Homo sapiens: one gene and its partners. The protein of the gene in region 1 purifies or fractionates together with the protein of each later gene. This does not show direct contact. Each region holds a gene or a part of one and is shown on either strand. Other genes may lie near its edges.

Region 1 (3,500 bases):
ATAATAAAGGGTACCATAATAGTAATAGCAAATTGTTACTGAACACTTGTGAGCCAAAAACTCAGTTAGTACGGGATAAGTGCTTGGCATGCATTATTTCATTCAGTCATCGCAATGTTGTGAGGTAGGCACAATTACATTTTACAAGTGCAAAAACTAAGACATAGAAGAAAATATTAAATATTTCAATTACACAAGCATTTAAAATTCCTTTCCTAATATCACCCTATAGACAGTGAAAAGAGTAATGGTCTGGATTCTAAAAATGAGACATTCGCAATGCATGTATTAACAAGAGATTGATATCGGGAATACATAAATACCTCCTATGAATCAATTTCTTAAAAAGTATTTATTGTATATATTTAAGATGTAAAATATGTCTGGGATACATAGATAGTGAAAAGGTTACTATAGTCAAGCAAATTAACATATCCATCATCTCACCCACTTTTTTTTGTGTGTGGCAAGAGCACCTAAAATCTACTCTTCAGCAAAACTCAAGTACAATACAATATTATTAAGCATTGTACTGCATTTTTAACGTTATTTCTGGGTAACCTCAGTTTCTCCCGAAGCCCCAGCCATAAATGGCATATACAGTTTGACAATGATTTCTCAAATTATCTGTGTGCATATTTAACCACAAACAACAATTTTCTCTTTTTATCCTCCTATTTTATGGATGTGTGTTGAAATGAGAATAGGAATTTTATGAAAATTCTACAGACTGTTTTCCAATCCCATCATCTAAAGGACAACTGATTTTCCTATTGATAATATTGATATTATTAATACAAATTATAATAGTTATCACATGTAGTGCTAAGTGCTTTCTAGAGGATTATCTCATTTAGTTCTTACAGTAACTTTGTTGGCATCATCATTCTCTTTTCCAGACCAGGAAACTAAAGTTCACGTTAAGTAACTTGCCTAAGAAGACATACCACGTGGTAGGCAGAATTAATGTCTGCGCCCAGGTTGTCTGACTTTTAGGCACTATGCTTTATTGCTTCAGTCATCTTTAAGAAGTTATAATAAAATTAGAGTTTGTTAGTCATCTTGGGAATCTACCTGGAGGTGCACAAGCAGAGGTAAATGCTTCTTTGCAAGCTCTGCAGAGACAGCTTTAACAAAGCAGGGAAGTGTCAGATAACGATGTTTCAGCGCAACTCGGTTCCTGCGTTACCTCCTGCAAGTTGCTTAACCTCACTGGGCCCCAGTTTCATCCTCTGCAAAAAGAAGCCGTGGCATGAGAGGATCTCTGAGGCCCCTTCTTAATTTAATGACTCAAATGCTCCCTAATTTAAAGAAGCTTGTGAAATGAGAAAAGAAAAGAGGAAGTAAAAGGGAGATTGGGGAGGACTCAGCCCATCAGCATAGAATCTTCTGGATGGGCTTTCCTCACCTTCCTCAGCTGCTCATCCCCTATTCTACAAAGGGCAGAGCTGAGTTTTGCTTATTTTTGACTTTGGTCCTTTGCACAGGAAAAATGAAATGGAGAATGAACAGTTATATGTTTAACCAGGTTAATGTGGACCCCATTTATTAGGCCCCAAAGCACATATCATTTTTTCACACAGGCTTGCTACTCTAGTTTTCTGTATTTTCTGCTTCACAGATGCGCATACAGATTAACTTTCACATTGGAGGCCTCACATCCTCATGTTTGCTACTCAGCAAAGCACTGGCAAGCATTAGATGTGCTGAGATGGGGACTTAATCTTCTCAGGCTCAATTAAAATGTCGAATTAAATTAGGATGGTTACTCACAGCATGCATATGACATAGCACACATCAATGTTTTTGCTTGCAAATTCAGTGAAATTTCCAAGACTTTGAAAGTGAATTACACTTAAAAATTTACACCCATGTCAGGATAGAGCATCATCTGTTTCATTAATGCAGCTCTAAATGAACTGAGGACAAGAAAAGGTAGAACTCCTGAGTTTAGATTAAACAAATTACCTGGGTAATTCAGAGAAAGGTGACTTTCATGTCTCATAGAACATAGATTGAGTCAGATGGACCAGGGATTCAAAACCAGGCTCTGCATTATGACAGGACTCAATCAAGTTGCTAATTTCACTGAGCCTCAGTTTTATCACCACTAAAATGGGGATATTCTTTTTTACGGGGTTGAAAGATTGGAGAAAACACATGAAAAATTATAGGACTATACTGGTCAAGAATAGATGTTCCGTGAATATTTGTTCCCTTCCTCTTCTTCCTTCCCTGCCCCAGTGTGGTCTGCTTTGTTGCAAAGCTTCACTGAAGCTAGGTAACTGTTTCCACACCAAATACTTTCCCCTGGATGGGAGCTATGTCCCCACTCCTTCCTCCTTAAAAATAGATTTTTGTCTTTGAGGAGTATTAAAGAGATAAGAAGTTCTGGGGAATTGAAAGGATTGTTTAAAAACTGAATCAACCTTAAAATGAGACTATATTATATTTCTTTTAAAAACTTTCATGTAAACAATTTAATTTTAGGTTTTATTTATTGCTCCCTGTCTTCATTGAAGCCAGAGGTCACTCTGCGAATGATGAGAAATGTCAGTGAACACAGGCACAGCTAATGAAGAGAATTCCCTCTGGCTCTGGAGCAAAATACCACAGAGACTTAACTCACGGCCCAAAGCTGGATCTGCAAAATTGTGCTGGATTATGCATCTAGACACACAGGCCATGGATATTAATGTATTAGGTAGAAGAGATAGCGATGAGAGAGAGAGAAGGAAGAGGGGAAAGAGGGAGAGAGAAAGAGGAGAGAGAGAGGAGGGAGAAGGGAGAAAGAGAGAGAGGGAAGAGAGAGAGAAAAGTGGAAATACCAGAAGTAGGGGATTTCTATCAGAGAAGTTCCTATGTGAGCATCAGCATTCTCTGTAACTCCTGCTACCTCCACTTTCCCTGCTGACTAGGATATGTCTGACTTCCCCCAAATCGGGCTGTGGGTCTAGTGCAGGTCTGGAGAGTCAGGCCATCTCTAAAACACTGTTGACATTTCAGAGCTAGTCAAGGATTTGAATGTGCTGTGCTGCTTGCCTGGCAATTTGGTGTATTACGGGATTGCAAATTTGTCTCTCAGGACACCAGAAGCCTTCTTGGTTCGGGATTCCACCCTCTCCCCACCGCCCCTGTCCCTGGTGACATGGAGGAATCCATACTCCCCACTTTGCGGTGCTGCTTTCTACCACCTCAGCCCCATGAAGGACTACGAAAACTTCAAAACTGGATGAGAAAAACCAAAGACAAGATTATTTTGTAAGAGACAATAAATATTGTAATCAATCCAGAGAAGGGCACAAATTACTAGAAACGTAATTTCTTACCATTTGTCTTTGTGAGAGAAACAATTTATTATTTCTTGCCTGTGCATTTTTTAGTGTGTTTTTCTAACCCACATTCATATGCACAAAGAGAGAGAACTCAAAGAGATCCCGTGAGCTTTGCTGAGTGCCCAACGTGTGAAGTCATGCCACCAAGTACCTTCACAAATATTA
Region 2 (4,183 bases), on another chromosome or scaffold:
GATGAGGTGATTGTCAAAAATATATACTGACTTCAAGACATAGTGTTGACTGAGGTTGTCTTTATTAGAAGTCTCAGCCATGCCTCCAGTTTCGAGATGAATCTCAATTCACAAGTTCCACTATGAATCTCAATTCACAAGTTCCACTACCACCACCACCATCACTGCCCCCAGATAGAATGAGACTTCTAATAACTTGAAAGACAAGTCTATAAATATCCTGTAATCGTTTTCACTGTATCACTTTTTCCTGGCTACTTTTATCCGATAAAAACCTCAATTTATTTTTAAGCTATTAAACATGCGGACAAAGGGAATCTTAGTTTTATGCAAAAACGCAACCACGCATGAGAACTGCGCAAGTCTTTCTTGGAATGGTCTGTATTTGGGTGAAGTCATCAGACGTCATTACACTTCTTTATTTTGGGGTTGCCAACTCGTTTCCCAGGATTTAAAGACTATAACGATGATAAAAGTCAGTGTCGCACCCTGTCAAAGGCTTGGCCCGTTGCCTTTTCCTTCCCGGCAATACTCGGTTCAATTAGGTCTTGTCCCCTCATTATCTGTGAGGACTGAATTCCACCCCCGCTTTTCAACGCAGGCTCTTTGCTCGGGAAAAGTCAAACCATCTCTCAAAGGATCAAAGAGCTCAGCCATAGACAGAGCCGCCGGAGGAAAGCGGAGTCGCTGCATCAGATGAAAGGGGCCCCTCAGCCTCACTCCTCACCGCAGCTCCTGGGATCTTAAAGACAGGGTCAGGAGGATCAGGAGGGACAAGAGGGATGGAGGCGAAAGGCTGGATCCTTAATCCAGGCCGGAGACAAAGGTGAGTAACTGCGCGTGGTGGACGGGAAGATGGGCAGTAGGAGGCTCCTCGCCCCCTAGCCGGGTGGCGTGACTTCAGGAGGACCCAGAAAACCGGCCAGGACTGGGTAGGACGGAAGGTCCCAGGCGGGGCGGGCGAACCGGCTCCTCGTGGCACTGGCAAAGCTGGGAACGCCCCCTCCAGGCCCCGCCCTCCCGCGCCCGTGCCGGGAACTCGAACTTAGGTAAGCGCCCGGGTCACGCGCCGGGGCTGCCCCGCTGCCTCCAGCTTCCCAGAGCTGGCGTCTGGGAGGAAGAGCGCGTGCATCACGTCCTCCTCCCCGCCCCGCCTCCGCGCACTGCGCAGCGCGCTGCCGCGCCCCGCCCTTTCTCGGCCCCCGGAGGGTGACGGGGTGAAGGCGGGGGAACCGAGGTGGGGAGTCCGCCAGAGCTCCCAGACTGCGAGCACGCGAGCCGCCGCAGCCGTCACCCGCGCCGCGTCACGGCTCCCGGGCCCGCCCTCCTCTGACCCCTCCCCTCTCTCCGTTTCCCCCTCTCCCCCTCCTCCGCCGACCGAGCAGTGACTTAAGCAACGGAGCGCGGTGAAGCTCATTTTTCTCCTTCCTCGCAGCCGCGCCAGGGAGCTCGCGGCGCGCGGCCCCTGTCCTCCGGCCCGAGATGAATCCTGCGGCAGAAGCCGAGTTCAACATCCTCCTGGCCACCGACTCCTACAAGGTAAAGCTCGGGGCCCGGGCAGATGAGGAGGAGCGGGGCGCGCTGGGGACGAGCGCGCGGCAGGGGGGCGGGGGCGGCTGGGGCTGGGGTTGGGGCTGGGGCTGGGGCTAGGGTCGCGGCGCGGGGAGGCCCGGGGGAGGCGCGGGCGGCGGCGGCTGGGGCAGGTGAGGAGGCGCCGCAGTGGGCAGGAGGTGGCTTGAGGAGGATGGAGGGCTGGGCGGTGGAGGCGGGGCCTGGGGGCGCGCGGCGGCGGCGGCGCGGCGGGGGGCTGAGGCGGGCCCCAGCGGACTCCCGGGCGCCGGTGCTCGGGGCTCGGGGCTCGGGGCTTGGGCGTCGCCGGCGAGCGCATGCCCTTCCCTGAAGCGCGGCCTCTTGGCCTGGAGCTGGGACCAGTTAGGTAACGGCCCCGGGGACCCGCAGTGGAGAGTGAGCGGGGCTTTCCCCCGGGCCAGCCCGGCGCGCTCGCCCCTGGCTGGGCAGGTAAGTCTCCCGGGGCGCGAGGTGGGAGAAGTCCTGGCGCGGGCGCCGGAGCAGCCGCGGTCCTCTGCGGCTCCGGCGCGGAGGACACTCGCCTGGCCCCGGTAGCCGTAGTGGATTCCCCTGTCCCACTCCGCCGGGCTCCGTTTCAAACTCCTTGGCACCTAGTGATTGCTCGTGCTCCTTATCCCTGGGTGTAGAGGCCGCTCTGCTCTTATCTGCTTTAGGGTCATTACAGGATTTCTGTGAAAAGGAAAATGAAACACGAGGATTTAAAGGAACTGTAGTTTTAACCCTAGAGAACATGTGGAGAGGGAAATGGCACAGCGTTGCGTTCACATGCCCATTGAACACTTGTGTGGGTAGCTGCCACATTCAGTTGATATGAAGCACGCAGTAGTGAAGGGAAGAGGTAAAGTAAATTTTACTTGAGCAGCATAGTGGTTTGGAATACAGTGGTAAAACATAGTACTCTCATGTTTTTGTTTTGATTCTTTTTTTTTCCTTTGTTTTTAGCCCTCCTCCGATATTCCGAGAAAGTATTTTAGAGAATTCCATTTTACTTAAGTTTTGTCTGTTTTTTTCCAATCAGCTTAAAATGCTGTTTATGATATTTAGATAGGTTCTTGAAATCGAGCCAAGATCCATCAACAAGTTGTCTTTTAGATGCAAGTTTAAAGTATTGCAAAATCCGAACACTATCAAGTATGATTCTTGAATATTGTCAAGTATACGTGATAATACCTCAAGTATGGTCCTTTACTTGGTCCTAAAACCTCCTCTTGTGTTCTCTTGGTTCAATCATAGTGTTTTCAAAATTTTAAATAGTGATTTTAGAATAGCCTCATTGATAGTTTTGTAGAATTTTTTTCTTAACTAAATCTAAAATAACTGTCAGATTTTTTTTTTACATGTTAGCCAAATGTAAAGGGAGGTTGAATAGTCTAAATTTTAAAAACAGAAGAATGCAACTTCCTTTAGTTTGCAGTTCCTCTAACCATTATACATAAGGAATGTAAAATTACTTTAACATCAGTTTTCTGGGGTGCTTTTAGTTAGAATAGTGAATTATCTTAAAGGTTTCTAATCTAGTGAGCCATACTTAATTGCACTATTAGAATTTGCACCTATTTAATAAATTTTACTTCTGTCAACTTTCAAGTCAGACTGGTGTGTTTTATATCCTTTATAATATGAAACTTCAGAATATTTTCATCTTAGATTTTTCATTTTTTCCCCAAAAGTCACCTCTAGAGGGTTCAATCAAGTCGATATGTTTTATACCAGTGGCTTACCGCAGTATGCTAAAATAGATTGTGTATTCCACAGTCACATTTAAGTCTTAGGTTTCATTTCCCTTATGTTTTTAGGGGTCCTTATAACCTATTTTACATTTTTGTCTTTTTATCTTAGGAAAAAGGACAAAAATGATAATCTTGAGGTTAGAAGTAATGAAACTTATTTAGAAATTACACGAGAATGTTACATATCCTTATCAGTGCTTACAAACTATTGGCCAAAGTTGGGAACTCTAGTAGTTTCAGATGTGTTGATGAAGAGAGCAAAATATTGTTGATTTCTTCTTTCTAAAACTGAAGAAAGAATAATTGATTGCCTAAGCACTACGAAAGTTATTTTGCAAGTAGATGGTATGGTAGCAAGCACATGACAATGGGAGTTTTGTTTTGTCTTGTATCCTGTCAAGAGAGTCCAGAACTATTTGGACCAAAGGAGCATTTGAAGTATATACATTCACTTCTGTAAACTCATACTTTATTGTATATAGTAAGGAATTAAGGACACTGACGACTGTGGTTCCTCTATTTTCATCGTGGTTCTTGTTAGAAGTAAGGACACCGTTTAAACCGCATTATCCATTAGTTATGAAATGTGCTGTCCGGTGTAGGTTGCTTCTCAAAGGGTCATCTGTAAGCTGGTTATCTAGAATTCAGCATATTTTTAACCATTCATTTAATAAATGTTGGTGACCTATTGGGTATTATAAAAGAAGACAAAGATAAGTAGTATTTTGAAATCCAGGAGGGACAGAAGTTGATTTTATAGAAGTTTCAAAGAGCTGTGAAATTTATATATGGTGATTAGGAATTCAAGGCAGCTTTTTTTCAAAAAAAAAGAAAATTTTGCTTCCTCTAATGGCCAAGTAACA
Region 3 (2,543 bases), on another chromosome or scaffold:
GACTCTCTCTCTAATGCTGCTCTCGGGAAGGACGAAAGTGACCTGCAAGGAGAGAAATGCAACCATACATGGGCTCCAGTCAACTATGGGACTGAAGGTCCTAATTGCTCACCCAAGGGGGCTGCTTAACACAAACAGCCTCAGACCCGAGGTTTAGATTTCTGAAATATGCATTTTATGTTAAGTTGGGTATTTTTTTAAAAAAAGAAAAACAGCAACATTAATAAAAGAAGTGGTGTGTTTTTCCCGTGGCCAGATTTTTAAGAAACTTGAACATCTGGAAGTTGCCACAGACAAGCGAGCTAGTCCAGACACAGGGACACTCCAGGCTATGAACCAAGCCATGGTTAAACCAAGACTTGCCTAGACAATGCAGAATAACTCTCCCATACAGACTTCTTACGACAATCAAGTGAGGGCCTTTCCCTTCTCTGAAGGCAAGTAATAGGGCAGAAGGTGGAACAAAAAGCATGAGAAATCTAAGGTAGCCACATCCCAAATGCCAGTTAATAAGCAACTAGCTTCTTTATTAGAGAGGAGCGGGTGAAAAGTAGTAGTTTAATGTTCAGATATACAATCATTTAAAAGTATTCAATACATGGTGTTTGATGGTAATGGCAGGATGATGTCAAGTCTCTCTTTTTTTTTTTTTAAAGGTTTGTTTGAGTCCTATGTGGAAGCAAAAATTCACAGGTGAATTTCCGGGTGTTTGCCAAACTCTAACTAGGTTTCCAGGAATAATGTGTTCACTCTGATTACCAGGGCATGCCTCCTTTCCTCAGGCTTCAAGTGTGATAAGTCGTCGGAATTTGACCCAAGACTACTATCGGCAAATGACAAAGTGCTTTATCACATTCCTGCTAAGTCCCAGAATTCCACTTACAGCCAATCCTGAATGAGACTAGGTTTTGTCTAAAGAATCAAGGCTCAAACGCCAAGAAAAAAATAATAATAATAACCATAATCTCTTTAAAAGTAAAGGAAGCCTAGAAAATCCATGTTTTGACTTGTGTTAAGGTTTACAGATGGTACTCAATTTACAATGGTTTGTCTTGCAATTTTTGGACTTTACAACGGTGCAAAAGCCATACACATTCAGTACACCCTTCAACTGAACTCAACTTAAGATGGGGTTACCCAGACATAGACCTAAGTTGAGGAGCATCTGTAATTGCAGAGTTAAGCAAAATATTTTAAGTTTCTTTAAGTTTCTTATCCCCCACTCTCACTTTCAATTTTGTGTATTTAGATAATCTCTCCTTCCTTTTTCCCTTCAACTTTATGTGGACAAAAGCAATGCTTCAAGAAAAGCCTCAATCTAAAAGTTTGATAATGAACTTGACCCTCCACTGCCCCTACCCCAACAACATGAAGAACTTGTCTGTTCCACCTAGAAATACAAAAGTGAAATACTTTTTTGAAACTGTTGCCTCTTATCAGGCTGATATGTGATAAGAACACAGTCTAAAGTACAAAGATTATATTTAACCAGTACTTTCCTGGTGTTTTAACCAGCCCCTTCTAAAATACAGTTGTTCTTTTATACTTGGGAAAGCAGCAAGTCCTGTGACAGACCCAAAGTCACTCTAGGGAGAAAATCAATAGCAAGTCTGGCTGTTTTAACTCTCAACACCACTGTAAGGGAAAACAAGAAAATGTCTAGTTTCCCGAATAGCTCTGATACTGAACCATTGGCTAAATCCATGAACTTTATTTTCCTACCATGACCACAATAGACGACTGGTCTTTGCAGCTTCGGAAGAAAAGAGGACTAATATTTAGACCCCAGCTGGCTGCACATCCAAATCTTCTATGGAGGTTAAAAACACAAAAGTGGCCATCCCACTCCACCACCAAATTTTTTTTTTTAATTGAGATAGGGTCTTGCTCTGTTGCCCACACTGGAGTGCAGTGGCACAATCACAGCTCAATGCAACTTCAACCTCCCAGGCTCAAGCCATCCTCCCGCCTCAACCTCTAGAGTAGCTGGAACTACAGGCCTGCACCACCAGGCCCAGCTAATTTTTAATTTCTTTTTTTTTTGTAGAGACAGGGTCTCGCTATGTTAACCAGGTTTGTCTCAAACTCCTGGGCTCAAGTCATCCTCCAGTCTCAGCCTCTCAAAGTGCTGAGATGACAGGTATGAGAATTTTTTGAGAGGAAGTGGCCTTTATTTTTTTAAAGAAGACTCATAAGGATTTTTGACAATCACTGATTTATTGGGTCACTAGTCTGTGCTAAGTACTCTGCCAGGCATTTAACATACATTATTTCACTTGTTTTCATGATTAAATTCAGGCAGGTTCAATCACAGAAACCATGCAGTGGACAAAAGAGAGAAAAAGTTCACCATGAGGAGATTCTAAAAACCTGCCTTTTGACTTGTCTATTTTTATCTCTTATTTCTCACTTTGCTTCTCCTCCCGCTTGGACCCTTTGTCTGACTGTTTGAAATTAAGTTGCAGGTGAACCCTCCATTACCCATGTCCAGAACAAATAGACATAAGCACAGAACCTCACTAACTCCCCAAATTTTTATTTTT
Region 4 (2,251 bases), on another chromosome or scaffold:
CCACAGGGTGATCTTCTCCGTTGTCACCTCCACCTGGAAGTCCATCTGAGCATTGGCGATGCCCAGTTTTCCAAAGTAAGTCTTTCTGGTCTTGGAGTCAGGGCTGCCTCTCTTGTCGCCAGTGATCTGCCCATTAACTGTGAGGCCTGCCAGAGGGATGGGGCAGGGAGAGAGACCAGCGAGAACTTCTGAGTCCAGATTGCCTTTAGGGGTGTGCCTTCCTCTTCAACCAGACTGGCTGAGGGGCAGCAGAGCGGGGGCCACAAGAGAGACCAGGACTTCAGAGCCCAAGCCTGTTGGTTCCTAGACACTCTAGGTTTGGGTCATGCTGGGACCTTATGGGTCTGCCACTTGCCTGGGCCAGGGAGTGTTGTTCAGAGAAAAGCTATTCCCCAGACACAGGCTGGGTCCTACCCTAGGCCCAGGTGGTCCATTCACGCTAATCATCTCCCAATAGCACTGGCATGTGGGGCTGAGCAAGCCTGTGGCCCTGGGCACTCCCCACCCCCAGGGGTTTCTTTGCATGTGAAGATGATGCCTTACTGGGCAGAGTGAGAACCTGTTCCCTGTGCCTACCTCGGGGGACCCAAGCCCTCCCAGGAAGAGCCCCCTGGCCCCGGCCCTAGCCCACAAGCCTCACCTGTGACTGCATCCTGAATAAGGCGCAGCACTGTGCCTGGGGCTTCATCGATGTTGAAGCAGAGGGCATCGTCTTTCTCCGGAATTTGGATGATGAAGTGGGGATCCCCGTCCACTGGTGACACATTAGAGAAGGAGCTGACTCCCGGGGCCTCTCATCATACCTGGGGCCTCCCCCAGCCTTCTGGCCTCCATGGGCTCGACTCCGAGACAGGCAGGAGCACGTGCCCAGGCCCCTGAGCCTTCCCGAGGAGCAGCCAGGGACTCACCATAGTAGTAGGGGTTTTGAGGAGGCTGGTAGCTGGCTGCAGATACAAAGGGAGAGAGGGCTGAGCTAAGCAAGTGGCCCTGGGAGGCGCCCGACGACCCCCATAGGAGTTCAGCTTATGCCCCTCCCCTCCCCTTCCCGCTCGCTAATGCCATTGCCCTCCCACCCCGCAATCTCCTCAGGGCACATTGTCCATCTGCCCATCCCGGAGAGCTGAGTGAGTAGCCACGGTGGAGGGACATGTGGCAGGGGCAGGCTCTAAGCAGTGGGAGGAGTGGCAGCTGCCAGCATGTACTCACTCAGGTAGGACATGGCGGGGCTCACCGGTGTGGCTGAAAAGCCGAAGGGCAGTGGTGAGCAGGGTCTAGGGGTTCCTTCTCCCCCAGCCCCGTGCCTTCCTCCTGTCTTAGCGCTGCTGGGCCCCAGAGGGGCCCCAACACTGGCAGATAGAGGTGGAGATGTGACTACAAAGATTAGGCTTTGGAAATCGGGCACGTCCAGGGAAGCCCTTTATGGGGCTGGTGGCAATGGGATGTGATTTTAACGTTGGCGCAGGGCTTTTTGATGTGGCTGAAATGCAAGCCATTAAGTCATCTTCTCTCTCTTGAGTAATGCTCACAGCAAACATCTGCCCCACCCCTGGGCTTCCCACCCCCTAGTTGGGGTGAGTGAGGCTCACGGCTGTCTGTTGCTTCTTGATAGTAAACACCCACCCACACGTGCACACAGGCGCACACATATGCGTGCACATGCATATATGTACTCACATGCACCGGTACATTTATCAGGGCTGTTCTGAGGGGAATGTGATGGCCCAGTCCAAATGTGCCAGTCCAAATGGAGGTGGGGCAGGCCAGTAGGGGCTGGGGAGGCCCTGCCTAGTGGCAGGGAGTTTGTGAGGTTCCAGTTTTGTGGTGAGAGAGGCACAGAGGACTGTGATCCCCAGCAATTCCCAGCATGGGCATTGGGGCCAGACTGCCTTGGCCTAAGTACCAGCTTGGCCATCTGCTGAGTCTGTGAGCAAACAGACTGAGCAAATTAACCCCCCGTGCCTCAATTTCCCCATTGTAAAATGGGGATCATAAAAGGGCCCTCTTGGAGGGTTGCTATGGGACTAATGAAGTATAAATGACTGACATGCTAAATTGCTCATTTTTGCAGGTCATAGATACTGTCATACTGATTGTGTCTCCCTGGGCAAGGGAAGCCACCCCCAATTAACTCACAGGGATCCTCAGGCTCAGAGAGGGGCACGTTCATGATTTGGCAATAGGGCTGGGCCTGAGCCCAGGTGTCCCAAGTGTGCCCCCATGGCTGGGGGTCCTATCTTGCTTGGAAAGGCCT

What was found. The genes of interacting proteins can lie anywhere in the genome.
Region 2: the proteins of ARHGDIB (region 1) and NAMPT fractionate together in Homo sapiens (co-fractionation; one large-scale study listed by BioGRID). This does not show direct contact.
Region 3: the proteins of ARHGDIB (region 1) and OARD1 fractionate together in Homo sapiens (co-fractionation; one large-scale study listed by BioGRID). This does not show direct contact.
Region 4: the proteins of ARHGDIB (region 1) and ITIH3 fractionate together in Homo sapiens (co-fractionation; one large-scale study listed by BioGRID). This does not show direct contact.

What each region holds. Positions count from the first base shown.
Region 1 is NC_000012.12:14,955,102-14,958,601, forward strand, and holds part of ARHGDIB (rho GDP-dissociation inhibitor 2), read right to left. Parts: intron 1,233-3,500; exon of another isoform or gene 1,075-1,232; intron 1-1,074. UniProt on the Homo sapiens protein: Regulates the GDP/GTP exchange reaction of the Rho proteins by inhibiting the dissociation of GDP from them, and the subsequent binding of GTP to them. Regulates reorganization of the actin cytoskeleton mediated by Rho family members.
Region 2 is NC_000007.14:106,282,184-106,286,366, reverse strand, and holds the start of NAMPT (nicotinamide phosphoribosyltransferase precursor), read left to right. Parts: upstream 1-1,383; 5' UTR 1,384-1,482; coding exon 1,483-1,539; intron 1,540-4,183.
Region 3 is NC_000006.12:41,064,272-41,066,814, forward strand, and holds the end of OARD1 (ADP-ribose glycohydrolase OARD1), read right to left. Parts: 3' UTR 501-2,543; downstream 1-500. UniProt on the Homo sapiens protein: ADP-ribose glycohydrolase that hydrolyzes ADP-ribose and acts on different substrates, such as proteins ADP-ribosylated on glutamate and O-acetyl-ADP-D-ribose.
Region 4 is NC_000003.12:52,804,796-52,807,046, reverse strand, and holds part of ITIH3 (inter-alpha-trypsin inhibitor heavy chain H3 isoform 4 preproprotein), read right to left. Parts: intron 1,786-2,251; coding exon of another isoform or gene 1,675-1,785; intron 1,240-1,674; coding exon 1,207-1,239; intron 945-1,206; coding exon 909-944; intron 755-908; coding exon 641-754; intron 147-640; coding exon 1-146. UniProt on the Homo sapiens protein: May act as a carrier of hyaluronan in serum or as a binding protein between hyaluronan and other matrix protein, including those on cell surfaces in tissues to regulate the localization, synthesis and degradation of hyaluronan which are essential to cells undergoing biological processes.